4 linked regions of the Homo sapiens genome follow. The protein of the gene in region 1 interacts with the protein of each later gene in a biochemical or structural test. Each region holds a gene or a part of one and is shown on either strand. Other genes may lie near its edges. The genes, in order: RAP2A, RALGDS, RASSF5 and RAPGEF4.

Region 1 (7,912 bases):
AGCCACATACCCATGGCTAACTTCTTGACACAAGCCTAGGGAACAAATATGGCAAAATATTATTGGATAATATGGTCCACATAATTTTGTAGTTTCTTGTAATTTAGTGCAGATTACTTTTCTCAGTTATAATAATAGGTTAGTCTAAACTCAGCATATTGGAGCAATTTGTTTATTTTCACTATGACCCAGAGGAAAAACATAGAGTAAAATTCTGCATGCCCAGTATCATTTTACTCACTAGTCTCAGTTCTTGATATAAAAAGATCATTGATCAGCTGAAGTAGAGTTCATAAATTCTCTTCACCAGAATTCAACCGTTGTATACATAAGAACCTCTTGGACCCTCACTTGTGTGTCTTTGTAATATGGTAGTAGTAAGGTATTTTACACCTCATCCTAACCCCAGCGTCTGGCTTCCCATCATTGATGGAGAGGACATGTGAATGCAGGTGGCCTCTTCTTTACCAGTCTTTCAGTATTTGATATCTACTGTCAAATTCAGTATTCAGCTTTAGGTCTAGGTCAGCACTTTTCAATAGAGATATAACGTGAGCCACATATGTAATTTTAACATTCCTAGTAGCTGATTTTTTAAAAATAACATAAATATATGGAATTAATTTTAATGTATTTTATTTAACCCACCATATTTAAAATAGAATCATTTTGACATGTCAGTATTCAAAAATTATTAATAAGGTACTTTACTTCTTTATACTGTGTCTTCAAAGTTTGGTATGTGTTTGACCTACCACATCTCAATTCAAACAAGTCACATTTCAAGTGCTCAGTAGCCGTATGTGGCCACAGGCTGCCATATTGGACAACAGAGGTCTAAGGTGTATATGATTTGGGGAAATGCTTGCTTATTTCTCTAAGCTTCAGTTTCCTTATCTGTGAAATAGAGATTAGCATGCACCTTCCAGAGTCCTTGTTAGAATTAAATGAGATAATGTATTTTAACATTCCCAAAACAATACCAGTACACAGAAATTGCTCAAAAAATTCTAGCTGTCATTCTTACTTTAATAACTTTGTCATTTATCTTCCTTAAATGTTACCCTTGATATAAATGTAATTTTAGAAGAAATAAATTTGTAATTGCATTTTGGAATTCATTACTTAGTATATTCAAGATGAGACTAAAAAGCAATGAGGTTAAAATAATCCTTGGAAGAATTGTGTTGGTATTCTCTTGAAATTATTTCCCCTTATGAAGGATCTGATGGAAAAGGGCATGAGAATGAACATTTAACTTCAAGTACAGTATAGCAATAATGCATAGCACTAATGCATAGCCAAACAACGAATGGAGCTTTTCATTTTTCATTTTCATTTCAAATAATAGCAGTCATTTTCAAGGATTGCTATTACTTGAAATGTTTCACTTTTAAGAAATGTGAAACTGACCCATACTCCCTTAAGTGTCTGTAAGTGTACATACCTCCGTATACATACATGACCTCTTGTCAAAGCCAAGTGGACCAACTGAAAATGGCTATATTTGTAAATTCATATGCTTTCTTTTCTTAACTTGATTTTGGGTGAGATGACACACACAAAGAAGAGTAACAGGGATATAGGAAATGTTTTTCAGTTGAAATAAAACTAGAATTTTTTTCTGATTTTGTAATTGCTTTTTTCATTGTTACCCATGCCAGGATCAGCCATGGTCCTGACATGAAGTTCTTGGAACATGATATACAAGGCCTCTTTGCTGTTAGGAAAAAGTCCAGAAATCTTCAACATGACCTTTCACAGTCCAGCTTGCTCTTATCCCTCCCTGCCTGTGCAGCCTCACCTCTTGCACCCATCCTTTTATTCTAGCACCCAGACCTTAAGTCCTTGAAAGTACCTTTCTCTGGGCTCTCCTTTGGCCTGTGGAAATCTACCTTTTTGCAGAGTTAATTCCTACTCCGTCTTTCACCCTCACCCCTGCTTAACCCATTTATACCGGAGGTTGCAAATGTTTTTTGTGAAATATCAGACCTTAGCAATGACCTTGAACAGTAGGATATAAATAACTCCCACAAGCTTAGTGTTCCAATAATGGAACACTAGGCATAGATGAGTTAAAAGATTTTTCCCCACTGAGGGAAGATGTCCTCTCAAACCAAAGTAACCCCTTTCCTGTCTTCCCTTACTAAACTTTATGCCTCACCTCTTTGCTCAATCACACATACCCTGTCCTTTCCCTTTTCTTTGAAGCACTCATCCAAATTTAATTATTTGTGTGATAATTTATGGGTAGCCAGCCTTTCTCACAAAACTCCAAGCCCACGTAGGTGACACAGCTCCTACTAGCACATAGGAAACAAGAAAAAATGTTGAAAAAATGAATGTTCAGAAAGAAAAGTATTTGTATTGTTGTTTGGCCTCAGTTTCCCTAAACATTTTGATTTCATAGATGGAGGAGATGATCTTTTAAAGTTCATTTTGCAGATGGAGATGATCTTCCTTCAGCTCGAACTTTCTGTGAGAACACTTCCAGTTGGGGCAGTGTTTAATACGAACCTCAAAGAATCAGAAACATGATGTATTCCAGATGGAGGAAATGGCACAGGAAATGCATAGAATATGTTTTTTGGATGTTAAATAGAGCAGACTGGCCAAATGGGGAATGTATATAGAAGTGTGAGGGGAGGTAAGGTGAAAATTTTTAAAGCTAAATTACTGAAGGTTAAAGACTTAGGAGTTGATCATGTAGTCAAGGACCATAATCACAATTGTCATAGGTATAGCAATATGTAGTGATATGGTAGATGTCTTAGTGGTAATAGACTACTCTGTTTCATAACAGGAAGAATAGTCATAAATGTTGTGATAATCCAGTTTTTACGTGAAGTGTGAAAATCCTGAATTAGCATGGTGTCTGTAGTAACAGGAGAGAAAGGATGCAAGGAATGTTGTAAAGAATGAAGTAATCAAACTCAGTGGTAGAGGAAGAGGAAAAGGTCAGAAGTAACCTTGACATTTTGAAATGAACAAATAGGATTATGGAGGAATAGCTGGGGGAGATTATTTTCAGTTTTGGAGATGGTAATTATCCAGATAGCCAGCCTAATAAGTAATTAGAACATTTGAATAAAGCCTGAAAGGTCAGGTTATGTATGAATATGAAGACTCAGGATCATCTGCGTAGTTCAGATTGGGAGAGTAGATGAAACCTACTGGGTAGAGTATAGAGACAGAAATGAATGGATATGGCTAACAATAGAAATGAGGAATGAATGAATATAGCCAAGGATAGAACTCGAGAGTTGTAAGATACACAGTGGAGACTTCCTATATTGCAGTAGGCGAGAAGGCGTGGGGTGTTTTAAGATTGGGAAAAAGATAGTTGACTAGCACTACCCAAGGTGAGTAAGTTGTTTTTTTTTAAGATTATTATTAATTTTCTATATCACTTAAGTGGTCACTTTCAAGTGAGCTGGCTGATTGTTTACACTTTCCCCCTTACCATAAGTAGCTATTAAAGCCTACTCTAAAACAGAAGCATATTACCAATTGTTACACATAGATCTTTGGCCCATGACAGTTTGGTGCTGGAGAGCCGAAACGAGAGTATACATCAAAAGATGTCTGTCCCAAGTAAGTGAAACTTCTGGAGCTCTGCTACCGTTTTTCCCTCTAAAAATACCTGCTTCCCCAGTACCAAAACTTAATTCAAAGCTGGACCTCCCAGGTACAGAGCCTAATAGCTGTGGGTCACTTTTTTTTTGTTTTGTTTTGGTACTGGTGAATTAGTAGGAAAAATTTTTAATAATAAATATATATAACATGAAGAATTGATGACTAAATCCTGAAAGTCAGACATAAATCCAAACAAAGAATTTGGGTATGAAGATAAGGACTGATGGTGAAACCTCTATCCACTTAAATACAAAACTAAGATAAAAGAATTGTGAGAATTATGGCTGCCAAACAGAATATTAAAGTTAAAAAGACTGACAATATGAAACAAACAATATAACTAGTAAGTCAGGATGAGAGGAGGGAAATAGTTATGAGTGCTCACTTCATCTTTCATGAGAGGGATTTAAATGGTCAAAAAATTGAAATTTGTTTTGAAAATGACTCGAAGAGCTCAGTGTTTTTCATGATCTTTTTTTCTTTAAAAACCACTTTATTGAGGTATGATTGATGTACAAAAAGCCAGACATATTTAATGTGTACAACTCAGTGAGTTTAGAGATAAGCATACACTTGTGAAATCACCACAATCAATGCTGTAAAACTATCCATCACCTCCAAAAGTTTCCCCCTGCTTTATTTATCTATCCATTCATTCATTCATTCATTCATTTTTTTTGTAGTAAGAACACAACATAAGTTCTGTCTTCTTAGCAAATGTTTATACAATACAGTATTGTTAACTAGAAGTACTATTACCATACAGATGTCTGGGACTTACTTATCTTGCATAACTGAACTTCATACAGTGAATCACTTTATGTGGCCCAGAAGTTTTTCCTGAAAAGGAAACTTTTGTTTTGGCTGCATTGTAAAATTACAGGTTACAGTATATAGTTTTCTTTTTGCCACTCCAGGATTGTAATTTTTAAAGCTCAATTTGGAGTTGGAGGAGATGATGTCTCTTCCTCTCTAACATTCTGTGAGAGCACTTTTGTCTGGCCGGGGTGATGAGGGAAGGGGTCAAGTTTAATATGAACCTTAAAGAATCAGCAGCCTGTGACCCACAATTTTGTCTAGTTAAGATTTGATAATTGTATCAATAAAATCTACAATAAGGAATAATTATACTAATACTTATTTTTTAATGGAGGGCAAAAATAATTTAAATTATTAAACATTAAGGAAGAGGTAGAGGAACTAAGAAAAATCACTGGATTTCACAGCCAACAGGAAGAGCCAACAAAGTTGGAATCTATTTGCTAAAGTTTCAGTAGCAATATACTTGAGTGATTTAATTTCTGTGTGTGAAGTTCTGGGAAATTACATATGGCACAATAAGGTGCATATATTATGCATGTATATGTACATATTTTTAAGCAAGGATCTTTACATAAAACCAAGTACACTGTACTTAAGGGAATTTTTTTTCAGGGGTATTTTTTTCTTTTCAGTTCTCTTTTAGTCATTGTCTTTAGAACCTTACTGCCTAGGGGAGCATGTATGCCTTACTCTGGGGTTTTCTTTGCTTCTGTTTTGATTTTTCCCTGTTTTCTGTTTCTCTCCATCTATTCTTACCTACTGTTTTTTTACACACTTATATTTTTCAGGCCTATGTTGTAAAAAGAGTTTTAAGTACTCTAAGTTTTTTTGGAGTAATAAGAGTTTGAATACGAGCAGACTTTCAAACAAGGTAAAACTGATGGTGACTGAATAGTTACTAAAGGAAATGTATAGATATTGTGTTTATGTAGGAAATTTATCTTGAAATTTTAATGGTGTGCAGAAATATGCCATATATTATATATTGCCATTTCATTTGTTACTTTGACACTTGTGGTTCATATCATTAAAAATTATTCTCAGCCTGACAGAGAGAAGTTTAATTTCTTAAACATCCTTTCTGCTTTACCAGATCAAACTCAGCCTTTTAGTAGAGTAATATCAATAATAGTAATGCTGTAATTGTGGACATCTGCATTTCAGTCAAGTATGTTAAATAAAGCATAAATATATTAGTAAAATTTAAAGTAATCAAAATAACTAAAAACAATATTTGAAGATTCTAATACATAATCTAGCTAAGATTTTGTCATGGTATGTATTAAATTCTTTCTCTGGCATAATTGTATAGATGGGGATTTGTTTTTGTTTTTTATTTCTCTAATACATTTAAGATTTTAAAACATACCAAAATTTATATTTAGGGAGAAATAAGGTGACTTATAATTTTTATTTTTAAATTGTTATCTGTCAAAAAGCCAAATATTGGAAAAAATTAATAACTATCTCTATTTTTATAGATCCACTCAGCAGGGGATTTCACATTTTCTTAACCAGGGCCCTCAGTAAGAAGTACATTTTATATTGTGACTTAGTGCACACATAGGAATAAATACATCTAGCCGAAATCAACATTTCATAAGACAGTAAACTTGCTATGTTGCTTGTATTACTTTTTCTATTTATTTTTTTCTATTTTATTTCGTTGTTTTTAAGTGCTTTTCATGACCCACCAAATTGATTTTATCACACATAGCTTGGAAACTGCTATCCTAGGACATTTTTACTCTAAGAAAACTAAATGTAACTATCTGTTTAATATTTCATCTTCTCTCTCCTGCTTTTCTGGTTCCCAGCAATGCTGTGTAAGATTACGAAAATGAAGTACTTCCCAATGTGAGTTAGTAAATACTACCTGTAATTCAGAGAAAGATAGCATTTAGTCACTGAACAAAAAGATATAGCATATCTTTTGAGAAAGCATTTATCTCTGTTGTGCATATTAGAAATATGAGAATGTATTTCTCATGTAATGTTGTTCATTCTAGTAATTCAAGATAACTTTTGCCTTGTGAAAACTTAGAACAGAGAAAGGGAGGTTGTGGTAGTATTCAGACTTGAATACATGAGTGCGGGATTATCTATTTCAAGAACAGTTGCTGAGGAGGTTCAGAAAACTCAAAATAGAGGTCTGCTGCATCTATCCAGGATAACACTGATTCACCTCTCCCTGTAAGACAGTAAAACTATAAATATCTTAAAATCACTTAGTAAAGTTACCCAAGAGAAACATTGAAAAACCTTTATTTAAAACATTTAGGAGTGTTCTCATGCTTTCCTGACCCTTAGAAATTAATAATTCAAATGTGGAAATACTATATTAATAATTCAATGCATATTAGTATTTTCTCTACTAAGTATCTTTACAGCTCTCTCTCTGTAAATGAAATCTTAGAGTATTTTAAGAGACAGGGTCTTGTTCTGTTGCCCAGGCTGGAGTGCAGCGGCGCCATCAGAGCTTACTGCAGCCTCTAACTCCTGGGCTCAAGCAACCCTTCTGCCTCAGCCATCTGAATAGCTAGGACTACAGAGCAGGCACCACCGCATCCAAGTAATTCTTTAAAAATTTTTTCTAGAGATGGGATCTTGTTATTTTGCCCAGGCTGGTCTCAAACTCCTGGCCTCAAGTGTTCCGACTACCTCAACTGCCCAAAGCACTGGGATTACAGGCCTGAGCCACTGCCCCTGGTCCTAAATTAATTCATCTTTAGGTTTCCAATGAACATTATGAATACTGTATGTATTATAATTCTCGAATGGAGTATTTTATTGTATATACTTATCTTCTCATCCATGAAGACAGCGAATGTTAATCTCATTAAAGCTGAGATCCAGCACTTATTAGTTATGTAATTAGGAGCAAGTTGACATTCCTTGCATTTTAATTTCCTCATTTGTAATATGAGTATGATGTAGTAACTCGTGAGATAACGAACGTAAAGTGTTTCTTTACATAGTGAACCTAAAATATTAATAATAAAGTTTCACCAAGAATCACAGAAATAGGAATGAAACCCAGCCTTTTATCTGTATACTGCCACGTGACTTCTTAGGAATTAGGCTCAATTGTCTTACTATATTGAGATGAATTATATACCTAGTATAGTATAACATTTCTGTTTTTCCCATTGCTTTCTCCTCTGTGTTTTAAGTGCTCTAACACTACGTTATAGAACTTATAGCATAGACCTTGAGTGCTTTGTGTTTTTGCCTTCCCCTAGAGACCTAAATATATTGGCTATAAATGGTGGCGGTAAATTTTTTGACTCATGAGGAATTGTGATGATTTTTAGTACACATATTTTAAATATTAATATGTGACATAAAAAGCAATCAGCATATTAGTATTTGTTAACACTTCTCTTTTTAAAAAAGTTAATAATGACAGTAGACCTCTTTATGAATACCAAATATGCATGGGGTGAAGATAATT
Region 2 (7,912 bases), on another chromosome or scaffold:
TGGGATTACAGGCGTGAGCCACCGCACCATGCAGCAGGCGGAGTTCTCATCCGCACTTTCCAGAGGGGGAGGCAGGCTCAGGAAGGCCAGGCCACCGGCCCAGGACCCCACACTAGTGAGTATTGATACAGGGTCAGCCCTGGAACCCGACCACACTGGCAGCACCCCAGGTCAGGGTGCCTGAGGGCTGAGGGGATAGGGCCTTGCTGACCCTGTCCTCTACCCTGGCAGGAGGGCACCTCCAAGTTTGCCACCCTGGAGATGAACCCCAAGAGAGCCCAGAAACGGCCGAAGGAGACGGTGAGAGTGCCCAAGGCCGCGGAGGGGCAGGGGGCTGGCCTGGGGGTAGGGAGGAGGGCCCTTTCCTCTCTAGCCACGGTGCCTATGGGCCCCATTAGAGGTAGCCTCCTCTGGACCCTAGCAGAGCCACACCTGGATCAGCTGGTATCTGGGAAGACCAGCTGCAGCCACGAAAGGACAGGCCTGGCAGAGCCGGCTCAGGCGGGTGTGGGGCTGGGGAGGGCCAGGGGCCACACGACTTGGGAACCTGGCATTTCCCAGATGCCAGCCAGGGAGATGGCTAGAGGGAGTCTGGGGTCCAGGGAGACAGTGGGCCCCAGGAGGCCCCCAGAGGTCCCCCAGCTGTTCCAAGTGAGACCAGTTGGGGCTGGGGGCTGAGAAAGCCTTCAGGGGAGGGGCCTTGCTCATCCTCCTACCCCAATGTCACAGGGCATCATCCAGGGCACCGTTCCCTACCTGGGCACGTTCCTCACCGACCTGGTGATGCTGGACACTGCCATGAAGGACTATCTGTATGTGAGTGTGCCGGGCGGGGCTGGAGTAGGGCCCGGGAGGAGAGACCTTCCCTGAGCCCTGGGGGCTGGGCTGCCACACCTGTCCCAGCAATGAGTAAACAGCTCAGTGCCCTGCTGGTGACACCCCAGGGCTGCCCAAACACAGAGCTGCAGCAGGGTTTGGCTGAGTGGGACACAGCCCATCCCTCAGGCAGTGACCCTGAGCACAGAGGGAAGCCAGGCCCTCAGCGGTCAGGCGGCACGTGGTGGCTGAGCAGGGCCTTCTCACCCAAGGCCTCAGTCCATTGTCCTCCGAGAGTGCTGGACAAGAAGTCCCCAAGCCTCTGCCCGCATGTCCCCTTGCCCTGGTGCCCAGCACCGGCTTCAATCCAGGGGTGTGCGTGCCCTGCCCCCTGGTGGGCACTCTTGATAGTGCAGCATGAGGTGGGGAGACTGTAATGGTCAAGGGGTCACTTTCTGACGGCCATTGGGTGTCCACCTTCCAGGGCAGACTCATCAACTTTGAGAAGAGGAGGAAGGTAAGCAGCTGCAGGCAGCCCTGACTTGGGGAGGGGTGGAAAACAGACCCACCAGGGTAGGACATTTCAACTCCTACCCTCTCCTTAGATTCATGGGACATGGGACATTTGGACACAGAGAGAAGGGGGTCCCCTCCCACTGGAGGGTGAGGGTAGGAGGTTATAATCCAGGACCACCTCCTGGGGAGTGGCTGAGCCCAACTTTGAGAACAGGAAGGCCTGGATGGGAGTAGAGGGGAGGAAGGGACCCCAAGAACAAAGACCCAGAGACTGGCCCCTGTGCTGCCCGGGGGGCCTTGTCACCGCCCTGTGCTTCCCTCTGGCCCCAGGAGTTCGAGGTGATCGCCCAGATCAAGCTGCTGCAGTCGGCCTGCAACAACTACAGCATCGCGCCAGATGAGCAATTTGGGGCCTGGTTCCGGGCCGTGGAGCGGCTCAGCGAGACTGAGAGGTGAGGCCGGGGCAGCAAATGGGGACAGTGGGGGCAGGCTGTCCTAGGGGGCCAGCTCCAGAGGGCCAGCAGCTATGACCCATGGTCAGCCTCAGCCCCTGTTGCCTGAGGATGGCCGGGGCACCCCGACTCCAGCTTCTGGGCAGGTGCTGGGGGAAGGCCGGAGCATGGCCCCTGGTTGTCACACCACTGCCCCTCTGCTCATAGCTACAACCTGTCGTGCGAGCTGGAGCCCCCATCCGAGTCAGCCAGCAACACCCTCAGGACCAAGAAGAACACAGCCATTGTCAAGCGCTGGAGCGAGTAAGGGCCTGGCCAAGGGTGGTAGGGGCAGCTGCCTTGGGGCTCAGAAGCTTCAGGGCTGAGCCTGGGCTCAGGGAGTCAGGGAGGCTGGCCCTGGAATCCTACCCTGCTGCTGACTGGCCCTGAGACTGGGATGAGTCCCCTCACCTTTTTGGGCCTCAGTTTCCTCCTCTGTGAAATGGGGTGATACTAAATGCTCTCCCAGATGGCTGTGGTGAATGGAGTACTGGCAACTGTCCCAGCACTTTGCACAGTCCTTGGGCGCAGGGTGCAGGGGCTGTGGGGTTGGGATGTGTCCTTGGGGAGCCCCCTTAACTAAGCCAACTCTTCACCCAGCCGCCAGGCCCCCAGCACTGAGCTCAGTACCAGTGGCAGCTCCCACTCCAAGTCCTGTGACCAGCTCAGGTGTGGCCCCTACCTCAGCAGCGGGGACATCGCTGACGCGCTCAGCGTGCACTCGGCCGGCTCCTCTAGCTCCGACGTGGAGGAGATCAACATCAGCTTCGTCCCGGAGTCTCCTGATGGCCAGGAAAAGAAGGTGACTGCCTGCCCTTCTCCCCAATATCCTTTCCCATCTCCCCACTCCAAATCCATGCATGGGGCCAGGAAGCCCTGGATCCTGAACACAGCTTCTAGAAGGTTCCCCATCTGGCAGCTGGCCTGGGGTGCCCCCACAGGGCAGTGGGATCTGCTGATCTTACCGTCTCCCTCAGTTCTGGGAATCAGCCTCACAGTCATCCCCGGAGACCTCCGGCATCAGCTCAGCCTCCAGCAGCACCTCGTCCTCCTCAGCCTCCACCACGCCCGTGGCTGCCACACGCACCCACAAGCGCTCTGTCTCAGGGCTCTGCAACTCCAGCTCCGCGCTGCCGCTCTACAACCAGCAGGTGGGCGACTGCTGTATCATCCGCGTCAGCCTGGACGTGGACAATGGCAACATGTACAAGAGCATCCTGGTAAGCCGGCGGGGGTGGCCTGGGTGCCTCCCTCCACTGGCGGCAAATGCACCCTGAACACAGTGCACCATCCCTGCCCTCCCGGGGTCTACCTTGTAGTTGGCGGGGAAGGACAGATGTCAGCCAGGTACAGAAATGAAGAAGGTAGTGATCAGGGACAAGGCTGGCCTGAGGGCAGAGGGGGAGGAAAGGAGCAGCCGTGCAAAGCCCCCAGGAGCTGAAGGGGCGGTGCTGTAGGGGAGGTGAGGTCAGGGAAGTATCCAGGGCCTGGCCACATAGGCCCTGAGCCCTGCCAGGACCTCGACTTTCTCGGGGAGGAAGACAGGAGCAATGATGGCTGGCTTCTCTGTCTGGTGTGGGCTGGTACCAGAGCCGCAGGGGTGTTGGTTAGGAGGCCGCTGTGGCAACCAGGCTGGGAGCCCTGGAAGGGGCCAGCAGGGTCAGAGTCTAGACAGGATTTGGAGACAGCAGATGGGAATTGCTCACAGAATGGGTTTGCCTGGGGGCTCTTTCTTCATCCTCCAGGTGTCCTGCGACAGATGAACCATTTGTAACCCCCACCCTCTGTACCCCAGCCCTGGGTCAGGTGCCCCATTATTCACACACGCTCCTGACCCCTCATTGCCAGGAGCTAGCATGGTTGTCATTAAGCAGTCACCTGTGGCCCTATGTCCGAGTTCCGCCTGTGCTCTGGCCCTCAGGGTCAAGGTAGCAGGGGCCTGGCCTATGCTGACCACACTGAGCATCCTGGCCGGCCCCTCCTTTCTTACCTCCAGGGCTTGGACTAGGGACTGTCTGTTCCCCAGGCTCAGTGATGCTGTTATCCTGGAGGGGCAAGTGCTTCTCAAGGAAGTGTGGGAGGAGGGAACAGTCTCTTACAGGAGAAGCAGGGTAGGCACTGCTGGGACAGACCCCTCCTCATTCCATGGAGGCCTCACATGGGGAACAGAAGGACGGAGGCCTCACTTGGGGAGTAGGAGAATGTGACAAGGCCCTCTCCGGACCCAGCACCTGGCCAGAGGCTGTGAGTGCCTGTGCTTGGTGCTGAGGGGACTCCAGAGGGTCCTTGGCCACTGCACTCTGGGGGAGCCGCTCCAGGGTCTTTTCCCTGATGGTCCATCCCCCGCCGCGATGCAGGTGACCAGCCAAGATAAGGCTCCGGCTGTAATCCGCAAGGCCATGGACAAACACAACCTGGAGGAGGAGGAGCCGGAGGACTATGAGCTGCTGCAGATTCTCTCAGATGACCGGAGTAAGTCAGAAGACCAGAGGGCGATGGCAGAGGGGGCAGGTCCACACCACTCCCCAGCCCCAGGTTGGAAGCCTTTGGCCCCAGAAAATTCACCAGCAGAGTGTGGGTAGACACTGTGGACAGGGCAGCCCTGGCTGCCCCCATTGTCTGCTTGCTGTCCCCAGCAACCACTGGACCTCCCCAGTGTGTGCCCTTCCCTAGGCGTGAACAGGCAGTTCAAAGCTCACATCAGTGAGGAGCAAAGAGAAAAGGCATTTTTCACTGGGACAGGTTAGCCACGTGGCCCACTGGAAGGGACTCTTTCTGGCTAAGACAAGAAAACATGTGCTCTACAAAGAATGGTGACAGCTGTGGACCAAAGTGTCAAGTGTTAAAATCCATGAGTGTGTGATTCTAAAAGCAGAACAGGCTACTAGGAGGCCAACTCAGTATTCTAGAAACTGGGAAAGTGTCAAGAACCAGTGCAGGCTCAGAGTGGGGTATCCTGGGCCTGGAGACGCTGGGCAAGCTCCTTAAGCCCTCTGTGCTTGTCTTCTCATCCCCCAAATGGAAATGAAAGTAGCCAGTGTGTTCATCATATATGTAAAAATCTATATGTATGTATATATGTGTATATGTATGTATATATGTGTATATATATGCATGTATATGTGTGTGTATATATATGCATGTATATGTGTGTGTATATATATGCATGTATATATAAAGCATCTATGTGCACCATAAAAGTTAACTATAAATACTATCATCGCTGTTTTCTTTCCAGTGAGCTGAACACCACCTCCCACCATTAGCCCAGACAGTAAGCAATGACTCCTGTGATCCCTAGAAGTTACAGTCTAAATCCTCTGGCAGCTTCTTGCACCATTTCGGTTAGGTGGGCAGGGTAGGCGGGACCCCCATCTTACAGAAAAGGAAGACTGAGGCCTAGAGAGGTTAAAGATGACGAAAAGCCACACGATGTCGGCAGGAGCACAAATCGAGCCCAGCTCTGGTTTATAGCAGGCTGTGGGCCAGAGGAGATGGTGGGAAATGGAGCCAAAAGGAAGTGCTTGCCGGGTGCCAGGGTTCAAGGAGTACAGGCCTCCCTGGAACGGGCGCCAGAGCCCTGGGGCAGGCCTGTCCTTTCCTGGTCCTTGGATCCCTTGTCCTGAGTAGGGCAGGATTCTGGGAGGTGACCTGGATTCTAGAAAGCCTGTTCCAGGTGGGCAGCCAGCACTGCAGTATGGGCAGGACGGGGTGACCCTCTGCCAGCTCAGGCCAAGCCGGGGGGTTCTGGAGTCAGTCCCTGTTTAAACAAGAGTCATCAGGTTTTGTGAGGACCTCAGCAGAGTCTGTCCTCAGGCAGGAGTCATTGAGAGGGGTCCTTGGAGTTCTGGAGCTGTATTGGAGGGGATCTGAGGTCTGTGGCTCAAGACAGTCCTTGTATGGGCTCTCAAGCGGTAGGGGTATCCTGCAGGGCCCCCAGGAGCATCCCTGATCACCCCTCTGCCCCTCCCCACCAGAGCTGAAGATCCCTGAAAACGCCAACGTCTTCTATGCCATGAACTCTACCGCCAACTATGACTTTGTCCTCAAGAAGCGGACCTTCACCAAGGGAGTGAAGGTCAAGCACGGAGCCAGCTCCACCCTCCCTCGCATGAAGCAGAAAGGACTCAAGATTGCCAAGGGCATCTTCTGAGGGCATCCTCCCAGGGTCTGGCTGGCTGGTAGCCAAGCACTTATGGACCAGAGTGGCCCAGGCCAGCTGGGCGCCTTCCTCCCACCTGCCAGCCCAGGGTACCCCAGACTCCAGTTTCATCCTGAACCTCTCCCGCTGCTGGGATTGACGCCTGCCATTGGTCAGGCTGACCTGGCCTCCCGTGGACCACTCGCTGCCTTAGGTGCCTTCTGCTCTCTGGAACCAGAGGACTAGCTGACTTTTGCCAAGGAGCAGTGCCAACGGGCATGGCATGGTGCCCTGCCTGCCCCCGGGCGCCACCTCTGTACACTTCCCTGACACCTTCCCAGGTGTGGGTCACTGCCACCTGTGCCCATGGGCACCCCAGAGCACCCACTGTGACCACTGCAGTTCTCTCATGCCCACAGGCACTGGCCTGTGACCTTCGCAGGGGTCCCGGCCCCTCCCACCACTCTAGCCTTTCTCAGGCTGCACCAAAGATTCCATCATCAGGGCCAACTGAGAGTGAGGGAGTCTCACCCACCGCTTACCCCAGCCCTCCCCTGGGAGCAGAGAGAGAAACCCTCTTCATGGACCAGACTCTGCACCCGGTGAGTGAGGACAGTCCCAGCTGAGTCCCATCGATGTTGAATCTCATGCCACTGCAAGTGCCATTCACCACTGCGTCCTGGGCTTTACGAGACCATGCAAGACGGGGGTTAGTGAGGAAGGAGGATTTGGGGTGGGGGTGGGGTGATTGAATATTTGTATAAAAAGCAAAAAGAAAAAAAAAATGTTTGTTTACTGATTGGGGAGGGGCAATATTTATTTGTTGTAAATAGCAAATGCTAGACTTGAATATTATATTAAAATCCTGTTTCTACTATACCCTGGTCATTACAGTTTTGTTCTTTCATTACCTGTCTTAATTAAAATGAGATAGAGACTCTCACATTCCGTGTTTAAGTAAGGACCCTTGCAGGGTTATCCAGTTATTTTATGCACAGGAAAAGCCAGCCACTCTTCTCAGCACACTGAAGGAAACACAAAAGTTTACCTTTCATACAGCAGATGTTCCTTTTGGCACCATTAAACTGGGAAATGTGCTGAGACAGCCCTCAGAACTCCTGGGACTAGAGTTTGGAGGTACTTTCACAAGGCATAGCAAGAATTTCTGAAATTTAGCTGTCTTTAAAAGTAACATTTGTGGCCAGGCGTGGTGGCTCATGCCTGTAATCCCAGCACTTTGGGAGGCCAAGGCAGGTGGATCATGAGGTCAGGAGATCGAGACCATCCTGGCTAACATGGTGAAACCCCATCTCTACTAAAAATAAAAAAAATTAGCCAGGCATGGTGCCAGGCACCTTTAATCCCAGCTATTCGGGAGGCTGACGCAAGAGAATCGCTTGAACCTGGGAGGCGGAGGTTGCAGGGAGCTGAGATCACGCCACTGTCCTCCAGCCCGGGCAACAGTGTGAGACTCTGTCTCAAAAAATAATAATAATAAAGTAACATTTGTGACAAAAGATGGCAGAGTAGGAGGCCCCAGGGTTCAGTTTTTGCACAGAAACAACGATTAAGCTGGAAGAAAGAAAACTATCAGAATAAACTGTTTTGGGACTCTGGAACCTGGTCGGACATAGTCACCAGGGGAACACTTGGTGAAGGGAGATGCTGCTGAACTCCAACAGTTAACAGGATCTCCATCAAGTCACAGGCTGACCAAGAGACAACAGAACAGAAACTTCGTGACTATACACAACAAGGAATACAAATATAAGCCTGGCAAAAATACGAATATAAGCCTGGAAAAGTCACTATGGACACAGAAGACTGCATCCTTCAATAAGCAAAAAAGCAATTCCTGAGGAGGGAGACAATCTGATTTCCAGAGTCACTGCATTATAATACTCAATGTTCAGTTCTCAAAAAATTACAAAGAAACAAAAATATGGCT
Region 3 (8,394 bases), on another chromosome or scaffold:
GGTCCCTGCTCTCAGTCTAGTAATGTAAAATATTACTGACCCCCATCACACATTGCAAGCAGCACTCACTTCTTTGGAAAGCTGAGCTCTGCATGCAACATGCTGCCCAAGAAGGAAAGGAAGCAGCACTGGAGACCTGTGTTTCATAGCTAACCAAGATAAGGGCATTTTTTTCCAAATGTCTGTGGAGGGGGTCACACCATTTTAACTATTTACTGCTGTAACCCCATTTTTAAAGTGTAGTCTGTGAGCCATCTGAATCAAAGTCTCTTGCAAAATCCCGGCCAAAATCCAGACATACTGAATCAGAGGGTCAGGTCCCAGAATAGGCATTTTGAACAAACTCAGGTTCATAAAGCTTGAAAAGTTTTTGGGGCTGTTGTGCCTGTTGTTCTCTTAGTCTGGGACACTCTTGTCCAGATTGACAAAGGGCTTGCTTCATTCAGATCTGCTTAAATGTCTGCTCCTCAGAAAGGTCTTTCCTGACTACTCAATCTAATAGAGTAGCCTCTATCACCTTCATCCCCTTAATGTGCTTGATTTTTCATCAAAGTGCTTACAACCTGATATCATATTACTCTTGTGTCTGTTTATTGTCTGGCTCTTTCACTAAATGCAAGCTTCATGAACATATCCATTTCACTGTTGTACCTTTAGTGCCTAGAACAGTGCTTGATACATAGTGGATATCAGAGAATTACTCATTAAATGAATGAATAACTGCTCTATGCCCTTGAAGATTGCACTGGCCATTAGCGCTGATTGCCAAATATTTCCAGCCCTTTCCCCTTCTGAGCACAAGGTAGAATTTTACATCTGCTCCTGTTTGTAGAGTGGGGTCATATGACTAGTTCTGGCCAATAAGCTGTGAGCAAAAGTGACTGGAGCTTTTAAATGCTGATGTGGGATCCTCCAGGCTCTCTCAATCTCCCTTTGGCACAGTGACTGGCAATATTAGACATGGTGAGTCTGATGAGAAGAGAGCACCTGCCAACCTGCAAAAGGCATGTAATGTGAGCGAGAAAGGAGTCTGTTATTTCAGGGCACTCAGCTGTGGAGCTTATTACTACAGCATAACCTAACTTGTCCTGACTCTTACAGTGATTCCATGTAGACAGTTGTGCAACTGTCAGAATCCCTGGGAGTTCCCTGAAAGCTTCGGGGATTTCAGGCGACTTCAGACGCCTCAAAGTCAAACAAAACCAAAAATGTCCCCTTCAGGAAGTCAGGCCATGTTCTGTCCTTCCGTTTTCCTTCTTACTAGGGAACTTGGGGAGGGAGGCTGGGCGGCAGCAGTTAAACAACTCACCCAATGGGAAAACCAGCACGCTCTGGGACCACCTCTGAAGTGATCTCACACCCTGACCACACACTCTAAACTCACTGTCATAATCCTTCCCCTTGGTCAAAAATAAAAGCAGCACACCCACTCTGCTGGGAGTGAGTCACAAACAGAAAAAAGTCAATGGGTCTGAGCCAAGAGGATCTACTAACAAGGGGAAAGATCTCCCAGTGGAGGTGTTTCAGCGGATGCTGCGGTCTTACCCTTGTAGCCTGGATGACCAGACAGATCAAAAAAAATGTTAAAGTCCAGGCATCTGACACTACCCCAGCAATGTCCTGAGCTTATAATGAGACTAGAGTTTCTTTAGCACTTCTTCCCTGGGGAAGAAGGAATACTCTGCTGTTCATGTGGGGTGTGTGTGTGTGTGTGTGTGTGTGTGTGTGTGCATGGGAGCAAGAAAGAAGTCTATGTGTGTGTCGTGGGTTGGTGGGGAAATGCTATTTCAAGGAAGAAGGGGACTGGGCTGGGAAAACTGGCATCAGAGGAGACATGCCCCAGCCAGGGAGCCTCACATTGAGGTTAAGAAGGGCAACTGCCCGCCCCAACTCTAATTTCTTGGCTCAAGGAGATGAACTTTAAGATAAACTTTATGATAAATTTTTTGATTGGTTACATGGAGTTATATGATTAATATCTCCATTTTCATCTCTTTTCCCACCCCAGAAGCCAAATATAGGGCTCTGGCCCTGCACAATCTCCTCCCACATTCATGCTAAGAGCAGCCACTGCCACTCCACCAAATCAGAGCTGCAGGAGGAAAACAAAAACTAGAGCATTTTTCTGTACAGCCCAGACAACTGGGGAAGAGTTTTATGCCTGATGGTTTCAGATAGCCCTCAGTTTCCCGTGGCCAGAGATGACGCTCCTCCTCATGAGTCTCTCTATCCAGGAAATCTGGGCTGGGCTGCCCAAACCATGCTTTGAGGCTGCAGGGAAGGACAGAGATGGAGACTGTTAGCAATTATTTCACAAATGGCTTTTCAAAGCCGATCTTCCAGGGATGCACTTGTTGTCAGATCCCTGCTGCTTCTTGCCCCACCAGGCTGTCACTCAGAGCTCAAGCTGTTTCCATGCCCAGGACCTCACCCACCCACTGCACTCCAGGAAGGGGATGAGTCTCAAGTGTGTGGAGATGGGTAACAGAGTGTGGACACAGCAAATATTTATATGGAATACAGATTTCTGCAACAACCCCAAGAGAACTGCTTGCAGAAAAAGTGGGAGATTAAAATAAGAGACCACAAGGGCAAATTGTATTTTCCCTTTTACACCTTCAGCAGAAAGTATTCAGGAATAGCCCTCATTGGGCTTTTATCTGTCAGGTCCACTGAAGTACACTTGTCCTGGGGAGAAGGAACAGAGAAGCCCATTCTCAGAATCACCACCTCAGACCTAGAGCAATGGTTTTCCAAGTTGGGTCCCTGGATCAATAGCATCAACACCTGGGAACTTGCTCAAAATGAGCCATCTCAAACCCCAGCCCCAGACCTATAGATTCTGAAACTTTGGGGATGAAGCCCAATAATCTTAACAAGCCCTCCAGATGACTGTGATGCATACCAAGGTTTGAAAACCACTGATGTAGCAAAAGCAAGGTTAGGAGAGGGAAGAGGAAAGGTAGAGGAGGGGTGGGGCAGAGGCGGTGGCCTGTGGCTTACACCCCTCATCGGAGCTCCTCTGTTTGGTAGCACTGTGGGGTTGACTGTCCCATGGGTCATTCCTCAGAAACCACCTCATAGGGTGAGCTCCCGCCTCTGGTGAGCCCCCAGAGCCCCAGGAACCTCTCTTCTGCTACAGATTTGGGAGGCAGAGGACTATGATTACCGTGAGGGAGAAGCCATGGAGCAAAGCTGGCTGGGAATTCCCTGGCCACTGGACTCTGGAAATCTTAGGAATTACCTAAAAATTACCTCCAAGGGAAAAACAAAAAGCAAAAGTGAAGATTCCCCTACGAAGCACTAGGGGGAGACCCATCTCTGGCCTGGGAAGAGAAGGGAGAGACCAGGTCCAGAAGAATTTAGACTATTCTTCTAAAAAATGACCACCGCTAGACGGACCAAACCGAACCTGTGTTTTAAGAGGAAAGCTGTGATCACTGAGTCATAATGACGGAGCTGGAGAGTGCCACGTTAACAACCACCTGTCTCCCCACCTCCAGCCCAATGTACAGTTAACAATACTGGGGCTAGAGAGGGCCAGGGCCCAGGCCCAGGTTCAGAGATCCAGGAGTCCTCCTTATCCATAAGATGGGCCTGTTTCCATGGGCAAAGGTGCCTGTCAGGAACAACTACATAATTTGTGGGAACCAGTGCAAAAAGAAAACGCCTGGCCCTTTGTTCAAAAAGTAAGACTTTCAAGATGGTGACCGCAGAGCGTTAAACCAGACAAGGGTCCATGAAGGCTTGAAGCAAGCCTTCACGGGGGAAAGTGCCGGGAGAAAGGAGATCTCTCTTTGGGTCCCATGAGTGAACCATCCATACCAGGTTCCACTTAGGGCATTTAGGGGAACTGGTATCTCCACAGTAATTACTAGAGCAGCTCTGGGGAACGGAGGGTTGGCTAAGGAAGAAAAGCTCCCCCAACCCTTGGGGCGAGGGAGCGTTCTCTCAATGGAGCCCCCCCAACTCCCCTCCACCCCCCACCAGTCTTCCAGGAAAGAGGAATACCCTACCCGGCAGGGCTGCGAAGGAAGGGGAAATCCAACCAGAGCGAAAGTCGCACGCGGACAGCTCTGCCAGCCCTTGGAGGCATCCGGCGGTCACCCACGGGACAAAGCGCGGCTGCGGGAGCGCGCGCGGGGCATTCCGGACCCGCGTCGAGCTCCGCTCTAGAGGGGGCGGCGGGCGGCGACAAGCCGGAGAGAGGAAGGGCCAAGGAGCACGGCCCTCCTGTCGGCACCATCAGCGGGAGAGTGGCGAGCGGACGCCTAGACGGAGGGGCCCTACTCAGACCCCATCGAGCCAGTTCCCAAGCTTTTCCCTCCGACCTGCTCCCTCCCGGGGCGCGTGAGGGTGCGGGTCGGGGGTGAACCTGGTGTTGGGGAAAGTGATTGGCAAGGGAAAGAGGCAGGGCTGAAGGCCTAGGGCCCCCCGCAGAAATGCGCCCTCTGAGCTGTACTGTACAGAGGCGCTCCTCTGCGGAATCCTGCAGCTGCTCCAGGTGAAGACGCCCCCAAATCCACACTCGCGCAGACGTCGCCTGGCACGGACCCTACCCCCTTCGGTCCGTCGGCGGTTCTCTTGGGTCGTCCTTCCTGCCACTCCGACTCTCCCCGCCCCCGCCCCGCCCAGCAGGCTGCGGTTCCTTTAAAGGCGCGCTGGTGTGGGGCGGCCCCTTCTCTCGGGGCTGGCTCGGGAGTAGCGCAGTCGCCAAAGCCGCCGCTGCCAAAGCTGCCGCCACTAGCCGGGCATGGCCATGGCGTCCCCGGCCATCGGGCAGCGCCCGTACCCGCTACTATTGGACCCCGAGCCGCCGCGCTATCTACAGAGCCTGAGCGGCCCCGAGCTACCGCCGCCGCCCCCCGACCGGTCCTCGCGCCTCTGTGTCCCGGCGCCCCTCTCCACTGCGCCCGGGGCGCGCGAGGGGCGCAGCGCCCGGAGGGCTGCCCGGGGGAACCTGGAGCCCCCGCCCCGGGCCTCCCGACCCGCTCGCCCGCTCCGGCCTGGTCTGCAGCAGAGACTGCGGCGGCGGCCTGGAGCGCCCCGACCCCGCGACGTGCGGAGCATCTTCGAGCAGCCGCAGGATCCCAGAGTCCCGGCGGAGCGAGGCGAGGGGCACTGCTTCGCCGAGTTGGTGCTGCCGGGCGGCCCCGGCTGGTGTGACCTGTGCGGACGAGAGGTGCTGCGGCAGGCGCTGCGCTGCACTAGTAAGTGTGAAGGCAGGGGAGGGGCGTGCGGGGAGACCGCAGTCTGGGGGCGAAGGACTGGGAGGGCCCTGGGGCAGGGAGAGAGGGGCCATTACACTCTTTGGCTCCAGGGGAGCCCCGAACATAAGGAGATAACAACCCCTGGGGACAGTCCGCTCCTTAGTTCCCTGCCCGGTATCCTTTAGTGCCTGCCCACTACCTAGGTATGGTTATGCGGTAGTTAACAGATACCTGTCTCCTGACAGGTGCGTGCCTTGGCCCTCCACACACACACACACACACACACACACACACACTCGCACACAGGTTGTGGGGGGTGGGTGGGTGATGGCCTCGGCGGCCTCTGTCATCTCCCTGTGCACCCTCATGGTTTTGTTGTGAGTTCTTGGGAGTGGGTTGTGAGACTGCTGTTGAGATGACCGTTTGACCCTTGCTTATTAGGGTTACTGACAAAACGCTTGTTTGTCCGCCCATGGTACAGGCTCAGACCTCTCCTCCAGGGGGACGTATTGGGACAGGGAGGAGACCTTGTTAGATTTTGGATAAAGGCAGGCTGTGAGGCTGAAGAGAGCCTGAAGTCACCCTGAACCCGTGCCCCCTCCTGCCTTTCACCTCTGGCCCCTCAAACCTTTGGACTCTGCTCCAATGTTTGGCTGTGCCCTGCCTCCTCCCCTTCCTCCTCCTGGGTTCCTGCCCTAGTCGTCATGCTCTAACATTACTCAGCTCCTGACAGGGTCCCTTCCTCTCCACAGCCCTCAGGCCCCTCCAGTCACCTCCTGAGCCAGGCGCTTCTCAAAGCCAGAAAACACTGGGCCCCCAGTGTATAGATTTTCTGAGCCAATCTTCAGTCTCCTTGGGGGTTTATTATTTTTCTCCTCCTACAGTTAGGGGTGTGTATGCCTTTAATAGGTGTCCACCCTCCACCCCCACCCCGGCATTTGCTCTTGCGTGTTTATCAGAGGATATCCACAGCCATGTGTTCATGTGTTTACATGGATATTTCAAATATCTGAAGCCCAAAGCACAGACAATGGCACAGCCTCTAACAAGCATCTCTGGAAATGGATTGTGGTTTGCATCTTTCAGCAAAGGCCCTTCCCCTATGGCAGCAGCCTCACGTCTCCCATCCAACTGCAGCGTTGGACAGCAGCAGTGATTTCCACATCAGGAAAACCCTACCCTTTTTCTGCCTGCAGTCTGCAGCGGAGGCTGTTCAATGTGCTGCCCGCTGCAGCTGGCTGCAGGGAAATAGAACTCAGACACTAAGCCTGGGTCAAGTGGAAGGGAAAGATTGGAAGGGCAAGTGGGTGCTGCTCTTTCCTCCACCAGAACCCCCAGTTCAGGTGCTAATTAAGAAGGAAGGAGTAAAGGTTTGTAGAGGTACATGTTGTGGGTAGAGGGGCTGCTGTCCCTTGGTAAATGCCTTTGACTACAGTAGAATCAAATGCAACTTATCCTTGGATGTGTTGGCAGCTTTTGCACTTTCAAGATTCCCTTACTGCATCCAACAACCCTACACACAGGGAGAGAGGCAGGAGCCTCACTGAAATGGGTTTTATCATAGCTGGAATCCCAGGAAATCTGCTTCGTTGGCATTCTAGTTTGTAGTTAGACTTTGGGGGACTGTATCACTTGTTGAAGATTTTGCACATAGTTTTGTGATTTTCTTTTTTTTTTTTGGTTTGGTGATAATGGTGCGTTTGTGTGTATTTGCGTGTGCCTGTGTGTGATACTCCATGACTAAATGAATTGATCCTTACGTCACATCAGAATTGTCGATCTCCTTTGATTAAGTCATACGTCGTTTCTAGTGGCAGGAAGATCTAGGCCCCCGGGCAGTACCTCTGACTTTGTGTGTGACTTGGTGAGGTCTTTTTACTTTCCTGGGCGCTCATGGTCCCCCACAGAGTTGGTTTAATGCTAACGATGTCTGAACACTGGAGAGAAAGCAAAACTGGAATCGAGGGGCTACAGAAAGGAGTCTCTGTTTGTCATGATTAATATTTAACTAATTGTGAACCTATGGCTGGATGGCAAAAGTTGAGAAATGTTCTGATGTGCAGATGAGGGCTGGCAGGTGGAGACACAGCAGGCCAAACTCGCTGAGCATCTTTCTTTAAGTTGAAGGTCTGATTCCATGGTGAGGTTGCTTTGTTTTATCTTCATTTTGAAAAGCAAGTGTCAGAAATAGGACTTTAAAAAAAATCATACTATGCAGTAGTTAAGAGTACAGACTGGAACCAGAGCCCTGGGTTTGAATCCTGACTACCACTTAGTCCCCACGTGAGTCCTGGACATCTCTGTGTTCTGCTTCTTTGTTTAAAAAAAATAGGATAATGATATTACCTACTTCATCATGTTAATCTGAGAATTAAATGGATTAATATACATAAGGCACTCAGAACAGGGCCTAGCAAAATGCAATACGAATGTTTAATTCGATATGATTGTTATTGTCCCCTCCCATCTAACAGCTGTAACAACTAGTCTGGGCTTGTGACACCTCCTAGGATTACCTTTCGAAGCAGTGAGTACAATTTGCGAACTCTGCCTGGTTGCTGAGCTAAGTGGGGAAGTGACTGCCATAGACATCCCAGAAAATTTGGGTATTAGGTGTCCTCTAGAAATGCCACTCCTACCTGATGTCCTGCTGTGGCTGAGGAGACCCTTCTTTGCCTGGCATAGGGGCCACGAAGCCATTGGCTCCTTGTCTTTGTGTTTCTTGCACCCAGCAGAGTGCCAGGCCCAGAGCAGGGTCTCACTATGTGGTGAGTGATGAAAGTGATGGCTTGTTTGTGCTATTAAATATCCCAGCCCTTGGAAACAAGCAGGAGGGCAGTGGGTATGTGAGTGACATCTGTCTGCCCAGGAGACTGACACTGGGTGGGAACCATGTTGGCAGAAGGGCACTTTAGTAAGGAAAGCATTTTGGAAAACACTCTTCCCACTGTCTGCCTTTTTAGCAAAAGTTCATCTAACCTAAGCTTACCCCACTTCAAGGTCTGTAACCAACCTCTGGTTAATGCTGGATTTGTGAACAGGGAAGTTCAGAGTTAATATTAATTTCTAGGATTAAAGAACTCCTAGTTGTGAGATAGAGAAGGAAATCCAGTGGGGATCTGTGGAAAGGCAGAGAGAGAACGAAAGGTCCTGTGAGCCCATGTGTGTGTTTTGGGGTAGGGGT
Region 4 (7,461 bases), on another chromosome or scaffold:
CACAAAGGAAAAGAATGGACCTCGCTGTGAAGCCAGATTTGGATTTCGAAGTTAAACTGAAGTTATCTTTGAGAACAATTAAAAAGGATACGTCAAAATTAAAACCATTGTTAAAATTAATCAAAGATTTAGAAAGGTAGAATGAACTTCAGGGCTGGAAATTACTGATTTAAACAATTGTTCTCACATTTTAAACTACATGAGCTAAAAATTATGAAGTCTCAGAGTATAGCTTTAAAGAGTAGCATAAAACCAAAGTCAGAATGAAATGTTTTAGCTTTCAAAACTAAAAAGCAGAACAATTACTCCCTACAAAATGGTATAGGAAGAGGTTTCTGACCCCTGCTAATTGTTTTATTATTCTTCAGAGGGGCATACTGGCAGCATTTCCCAGGGTTTTCGGTAATTACACTCCATTCAATATCTGAAGAATTACAATAATTCTACATGGAATATACTTGTGCCCTTCAGATGCAAAGCCTTTAGAGAAGTGAAAAAACAACTTAAAAGTAAATTAGCAGGGAAGTTATCATAGTTACTATTTATTTCACGGCTCCATATATCAAGGGCTAATTATACATTGTACGTTACATTTTCTGGGAGGGATTTGTGATATGTTTCTCATGCTGATCAACAGATGGATGTGTCAGTTTTCACGATCTTTGATGAAGTGAAGTTCTAACTTTTCCAATTGCCTCTTTGTGTGCGAAATTATCCAATGCAGGTACATGTCACTTCAGGCTTGCTAGAGTCCTCAAAGCAGTAGTATTCAGTGAGGTATTATGATGCTTGCAGATAATATATTTGTAAGGCCTTGACTCATCTATGATTTTTTTTTACACTATGTAAGCTTTCTCAAAGTCATTTTCTTATACTTTGGCAAGCCAAGGGTCCGTGAGAGAAGAAAGGGTTGACTAGAATTACATAGCTGCTCAGAGATCGGGGAGTCTCTTTCCCTGGGTGGAGCCTTATCAATTTTCTGCTAGTGTTGTAATTAATCTATTATCTCCACAGGACCCCCTTTAGAGCCTGAGCAGTAAAGTGTCCTGAAACATACATAGTGACCAGGAGTGCCAGCTATTGTTCAAATACCGTGACATTCTGGCTAAGAAATGGAGCGTAGGTCTCATCAGTGTTTTTCCCCAGGGGATAGGAGTCTCTGTTTCTGTCCATTTTCTTTTCTCTTTTCTTTTGTTTTTAATTGAGCTCAGCACAAAAGATTCCCTTTTAAGTCTTTATTGCAACCAAAACTTTACAAAGAAGTTAAGATGATCACTTAGTGACCAAATTTTAAAAGGTCAAATCAATTATAATCTGTCCATTTGGTTGAATACATGCTTTTTAAAAAATGTTTTAAAATGCAAATGGCATGGAAAATAGTCACAATGCAATGTGAAAAATTTCAAATCAAAATAAAATATGTATGTACTATATGAATTCAAATCTTTTAAAAACATGTTTTTATATATTTTTAAATATAAGAAGGCTATATGCCGAAATATTAACAAGATTACTCTGTGAAGTAATATTCTAAGTGATTTTTACTTTGCTCTTAACATTTTCTGTATTTTCTGAATTTCTTTTTTTTTTTTTCTTGAGACGGAGTCTCACTCTGTCGCCCAGGCTGGAGTGCAGTGGCGCGATCTCGGCTCACTGCAAGCTCCACCTCCCAGGTTCACGCCATTCTCCTGCCTCAGCCTCCCAAGTAGCTGGGACTACAGGCGCCTGCCACCACGCCCGGCTAATTTTTTGTATTTTTAGTAGAGAGGGGGTTTCACCGTGTTAGCCAGGATGGTCTCGATCTCCTGACCTCGTGATCCACCCGCCTCGGCCTCCCAAAGTGCTGGGATTACAGGCGTGAGCCACTGCACCTGGCCTGTTTTCTGAATTTCTAAGATGTGTATATGTTAGTGTTATAATCAGAAAGGAGGAAGAAGGGAGGGAAGGAGGGAATCAAATCATCAGGATTAACATTAAAATGCAAACTTTTGCTGGAAGATTAGAGAGGTCAGTAATACAGAGTGTGTAGCAAAAATGTGAAGGTAGAATATTTTGACTTGCTGTTCAGCCAATAAAATCTCATACCTCATTAGTGAGTCTTATTTACTGTGAGGAACTTGATAAGCTAACCCTTCTCCACATCTAGGATAGTTACAGATTCTCTTACAAATTCATGGCAACCTCAAGAAAGGATGGTGAAAAAGCACTAATGTACAGTCTCAGGCATGATAGATGTTTTTTACATCATGGGGAATATGCCAACAATTATGAGAGTTATGCCATTAATATTCCTTACCTGAAAATGCCTTGTATGTATGTGGGTACCCCTTTGAAATAATTAAACAAGTTATACATCAGCTAGTTGCCTTCAGATAGTCAACATCTCAGAACATGTCACTTCTCATGGTACCAAGTATTGCAGAAATGGTTTGTTTTCCTTTTTGGATTGTACTCTACGCTTACTTGAATTTCTATCTTTCTTTTTTCTATATTCCTTTTAGCGCATGATTGCAAATACGGCCAGAACAGTGAGATACTACAGGAGCCAACCCTTCAGTAAGTTAAGTGCTGCCACCTCTTACAATGTAGATGTTGGTGATTAAGGTCTTCTTAATGAGGCCATTGAGACACCCTTGGAGCCTGGGAAATATCTGACTGTGTCAGAGACACTTTGGACCATGAATTCCATGAGATAGGGGCCTTGAGTTTAAAGATTTTTTTTGCTGTTTTAAACTAGAACATATTTACATTGTTGTGAAACTAGAAAATCACCATAGGAATATTATTTTGTGAATGAATTTAAAGAGATTTAATTTGCTCTATCCAGTGCAGCTGGAGACAACTAAAGTACGACTGCCAACAAATCCTGCCTCAAACCAACTCTCTTTATGACTCATTGCTCCATGTTGAGAAACTCACATCAGCCCTTGATGACTCAGTTCAGTCAATTATAAACCAGGAAAGATAATATTTATTGTCTTTCAGGGTGTTGCAAGAATGCATTAATGTTTATAGCACATTCGTAAAAGGTCCAAAAACAGGATTTCATATTATATTTCTAGTATTCCCACATGAATTTGAGGTGCTCTTTTAAAATCTGAACATCTATCACAAGAACTGGTATAATACTTTAATATAAAAAAATTACTAATAATAAATAACAATTTTAGTCTGTTGGGAGTTAAGTTGCATCATAGCACCAGATGGTCATACTAGACCAGTGCTACTGTTTCTTCTGGGCTGGGACTTTGGTGGTGGGGGTGGAGCTTTGGCTCCCTCAATCTGGTCTGGAAATGAGAAGGTGAACACTAAAGGTTTTTGCTAAGCTCATTGTATGACTCACTTGAAGAAATTTATCTCATTAACTCAATATGATACTATGACATAGACATGAATCTGAGGCTACCAGTACCGTCTCCTCCAATAAACCGAGTGCTAAGAGACTATGATGTTCTTGTTTTATTAGTCAGAGTTGTTTGTTCTTCCTAGAGCAGGACTGGCTCATGGCCAGATTTGCTAACATGGGACACCAGAACTACTAAATGTTCATTTTTTAATGAATAGGGAGGAAAAATATAAGAAAAATGACATTGATTTGGGGAGCAACTGATTCAAATGACTGTGCCTTCTCTGACTTCCAAAATGTGAATAGTCTTGCAATATCATCAACTATTCTTATGTGGATTCAGCCAGAATTAAAGTGTCTCATGTGTTTTCATCTATTAATTTACGTTGTGTTTAAAGATGTGATCATAAAGCAGTTGTACAAGTGGAAACAAGAATAGATAAGTGACACCAGTTACAACCGGAGTTTATAATCCCAAATCCAGCAGCGGGGATAAAAGGGGACCCTGAAATTATATGCCAAATCGTGTGTGCCTGAGGGGGTTTATAGCCTTAAGAAGGTTTTCAGTGAGGCTCAAGAACCATAAAATAATATGCTTTGTTTTATGAGCTTCTTTGGAAGTAAATCTTGCATTCTTCTATGTCACCTCCTAGAGAAGCCAAGGGGAAAATGTATTTAAAAAGAAAAAACTCCACTGCATTTGTTGAAGTTATCAGTAACTGCTGGTAAACAACAGCTGCTCAGCTCTGAAGTCAACAATCTATAGATAAAGCTATAGGAATAGATTCACAAACACTGTGGGAATGTGTACAATGTAATTACAGTATATTGTACGTGTAGAGTACACTGCCAGTGAGAAGCAGAGGAAATTAAACACAATGTGCTCTGCAGTTCGCTGTGGTATTATTTCTATGTGATAATTATACTGATGAGTTTCTTCTCACAGGGGGCAGGGGCATGTATGTCTTCTCTCTGCTTTTCTGCCTTCAGACCTGCAACACTCCCCTTCACCCCTTGTGCAGATGGCATTCTAATTGTCTTTGGGAGTGCTGTGTGGATCTAGCAGGAGCAACCAGACTGCAGAAGGCAGTGTACTGTGGTGGAAACCCCGGTCAGGAGCCAGGGTCTGGCTCTGCCACTCCGGGTGTCCCCTTAGACCAGAGGCCCTACCCAGTGATGCTTGAAATGGAGGTGGCCCACAGAGGTGTTGGGTCTAAAGAGAGCATTTTTTTCCCTTTTATTTTGAAATAATGTCACCATTTTAAAATTGGGAGAATTCACGAAGAAGAAATCCAGATTTCCCATTTCTTAACAAAAAAAAAAAAAAAAAAGGAAGATCTGGCAACTCTAGGCACAGATTCCCCGTGGCAGCAACATGCAGAAGCCAGGTCATCACTTCCAGAGGGACCTGTGTTTCCAGTTCACCACCTTCTGGTCTGGCTTTCCTTATTCATGTATGTTCCCTGCGAGGGCTGAGTGCATTGGCTCATCATTCAGCCCTGATCTTCATTAAATTGGTTAACCTCAGTTGCTCACATGCTTGGGATGTGCATCAGAATAGAATGGTAGCTGAGTTTTCAGAGCAGATAGCATTAAAGAATCAAACGTCTAGCAGAAGTCATAACTTCAGCCTGTGAGTTGGGTTTTTTCTGAATATGGACAGTCTCTAAGAACATACAGTCGGTATAGTAATGCTGTATACTGTGTGCAAGTAAAGAGGGGAGTCAGGACTCTGTAGTCTCACTGGCTTGCTTCAGTTTGGCCCAGATGTTAAGCGCTTTTGTGAGGGGCTAATAAAAACTGTCTTTTGACATTAGTCTTCATCTGGATCAAAGGAGGCAGAGACACAGAGTGTGAGACACAGAGACCTCTGGAAAGGGAAACAATTTTAATCTATACCCAGGGGCTATCAGACACATGCTTCCCTTTTAATTTGGTGCCATTTTTTTTTTACAACGTGCAATTCAAAGGAGAATGATCAAAAGAGGTGATTCCAGGGAAGAAAAGAAAATTGGAGGGTAGGAAGGAGGAGATGGAACAACCAAGTGGAAACGTTTCAATGATTGTGGTGTGTTGAAAGGTCTTGAGGGAACCCAGGAACCTATGATAAATGTAATAAATAATTGGAGAAGTAAGATTGTATCTTATATACATATATTACACAATGCCAATTCTGCCCTTTCCTCTTTCAACAGATCCTGATGCAGCTCAAGCTAATAAGAACCATCAGGATGTCCGGAGTTATGTACGGCAATTAAATGTGATTGACAACCAGAGAACTTTATCACAGATGTCACACAGATTAGAGCCTCGTCGACCATAGACATTTCAAATGCCCAAAGCAACAGTTTGTCTCCAGTCCACAATCTTTCAAAAATGCCATTTATGCTACTACTGACTGTATTGCCACTAGAGAATTCTACAAAACAAGCAAAAACACATCCTGAGACACCTCAGGGCTGCATTCAGCTTACCAGCTACCTAGCAAGAGAAGGAATTATTTGACATGCCTAAAGCTTACACACTCTAGCTTAGGAATCCCCAGTTTGTGGCTACCCTGTTTCATTTCCACTTGTGCCATCTTCTTTGCTGAAGTGTTGAATAAGGCCCACGTGAAGAGTTTGGTAGAAATAGCCTTGTCAAGAGAACTAGCAAGCCCCTGACATTTTTTTCTAAGAGTGTTTATGGGATGAGATGTGCTACAAATGGGATAGATTTGGATAAAATTTTAACTCAACATCTTGATTTGGAGCCTGGGGTTTCGGGAAGGTGTTGAGGAATCTATAGAAGTCCAAATTATAGGTTGTATTCTTCCATCTTCATTGTCTTACCTCTGAAGGAATAGAACCTGACCACATTATTATGAAACATTATGGCTGTTTATGTAATTTAGGGAGGACTGGTCTGTAATTTCTGAATGTATATAGAATAATATTTATGTTTACAATGTAACTTTTCAAAATTTACAAATCAGGATTATATACATAAGAATTCCACTAAGAAATGCCAAGATTCTTAAATTTGCCAGCGTTAAAGTAGAAAATAACATTTCAGAAGAGCACAATATGCATAAAACATTTTTCAAAATTGAAATATTTTCCTGGGCATTAAAAACCTTTACTATTGGCTACAAATTTATTGTACCTGATGAAAACATATTTTCTGGACTTAAATGTTATTACAAATATCTTAATTTTCAGTAATTGTTTTGCACTTTCAAAGATTGTAAATAGTTCATTCAATCAATGGTATGGAGTTATTTATTTGCTACATAATAGATACTGTGCCAAATAATTACTTTTTATTTATTTTATTTAGTACGTAATTTTGAAGTACATTTTTTCCTGTTTTCACAATTAGACTACATTTAATGTGTAGGAATTGTATGTATGTATATCTTCTGTAAATAACATCTAGTATCTTCACTAAATATAATTGTCGACAAGAAATGGTTGTGTTCATCTCAATTCCTATAATATGAAAGGGGTAACCATTTGGTATGGTGGGGTGTTGGATCTTTTAATGACACAAAATACACATATTATAAAATTCATTCTTTTAAAGTGCAGAATCCAGTGATTTTTAGTATATTTACAAAGTTGTATAGATAACCATCATCACTATCTAACTTCAGAACATTCTCCTCATCCCTAAAAGAAACTCTGAACTCATTAGCAGTCACTTCTTCTTCTCCTCTCCCTCCAACCTCTGGCAACCACGAATCTGCTTTCTTTGTCTTCAGATTTACTCTGGATGTTTCATATGAGTGGAATCATACAGTATGAGGCCTTTTGCGTCTGGTTTCTTTCACTTAGCATAATGTTTTCAAGGTTGACCATATTATAGCTTGTACCAGTACTTCATTTATTTTTATGGCCATGTAATATTCCATTCTATAAATAGACTACATTTTGTTTATCCATTTATCAGTTGACAGACATTTGTCTGTTGTGTTCACTTTTCGGCAATTAGGAGCATTGCTGCTCTGAAGGGGCACTGGATTTTAGAGCTCCCTTGTGTGGGGCCTCATGCCATTTCTCAGTGATTTAAGTACTTAGCAAATATTTGATGAAGAGATATCCAAAATTCTTTAAATTCCAGACATGCCTCTATTT

The links.
Region 2: the proteins of RAP2A (region 1) and RALGDS form a complex in vitro, tested with the Homo sapiens proteins (2 studies listed by BioGRID).
Region 3: the proteins of RAP2A (region 1) and RASSF5 form a complex in vitro, tested with the Homo sapiens proteins (one study listed by BioGRID).
Region 4: of the proteins of RAP2A (region 1) and RAPGEF4, one has a biochemical effect on the other in vitro, tested with the Homo sapiens proteins (one study listed by BioGRID).

What each region holds. Positions count from the first base shown.
Region 1 is NC_000013.11:97,436,522-97,444,433, forward strand, and holds part of RAP2A (ras-related protein Rap-2a), read left to right. Parts: intron 1-7,912. UniProt on the Homo sapiens protein: Small GTP-binding protein which cycles between a GDP-bound inactive and a GTP-bound active form. In its active form interacts with and regulates several effectors including MAP4K4, MINK1 and TNIK.
Region 2 is NC_000009.12:133,096,651-133,104,562, reverse strand, and holds the end of RALGDS (ral guanine nucleotide dissociation stimulator), read left to right. Parts: intron 1-231; coding exon 232-300; intron 301-729; coding exon 730-816; intron 817-1,300; coding exon 1,301-1,333; intron 1,334-1,662; coding exon 1,663-1,784; intron 1,785-1,991; coding exon 1,992-2,087; intron 2,088-2,423; coding exon 2,424-2,625; intron 2,626-2,800; coding exon 2,801-3,043; intron 3,044-4,180; coding exon 4,181-4,295; intron 4,296-5,800; coding exon 5,801-5,976; 3' UTR 5,977-6,841; downstream 6,842-7,912. UniProt on the Homo sapiens protein: Functions as a guanine nucleotide exchange factor (GEF) activating either RalA or RalB GTPases and plays an important role in intracellular transport. Interacts and acts as an effector molecule for R-Ras, H-Ras, K-Ras, and Rap.
Region 3 is NC_000001.11:206,502,850-206,511,243, forward strand, and holds the start of RASSF5 (ras association domain-containing protein 5), read left to right. Parts: upstream 1-4,681; 5' UTR 4,682-4,753; coding exon 4,754-5,210; intron 5,211-8,394. UniProt on the Homo sapiens protein: Potential tumor suppressor. Seems to be involved in lymphocyte adhesion by linking RAP1A activation upon T-cell receptor or chemokine stimulation to integrin activation.
Region 4 is NC_000002.12:173,046,099-173,053,559, forward strand, and holds the end of RAPGEF4 (rap guanine nucleotide exchange factor 4), read left to right. Parts: intron 1-2,501; coding exon 2,502-2,556; intron 2,557-5,541; coding exon 5,542-5,669; 3' UTR 5,670-6,795; downstream 6,796-7,461.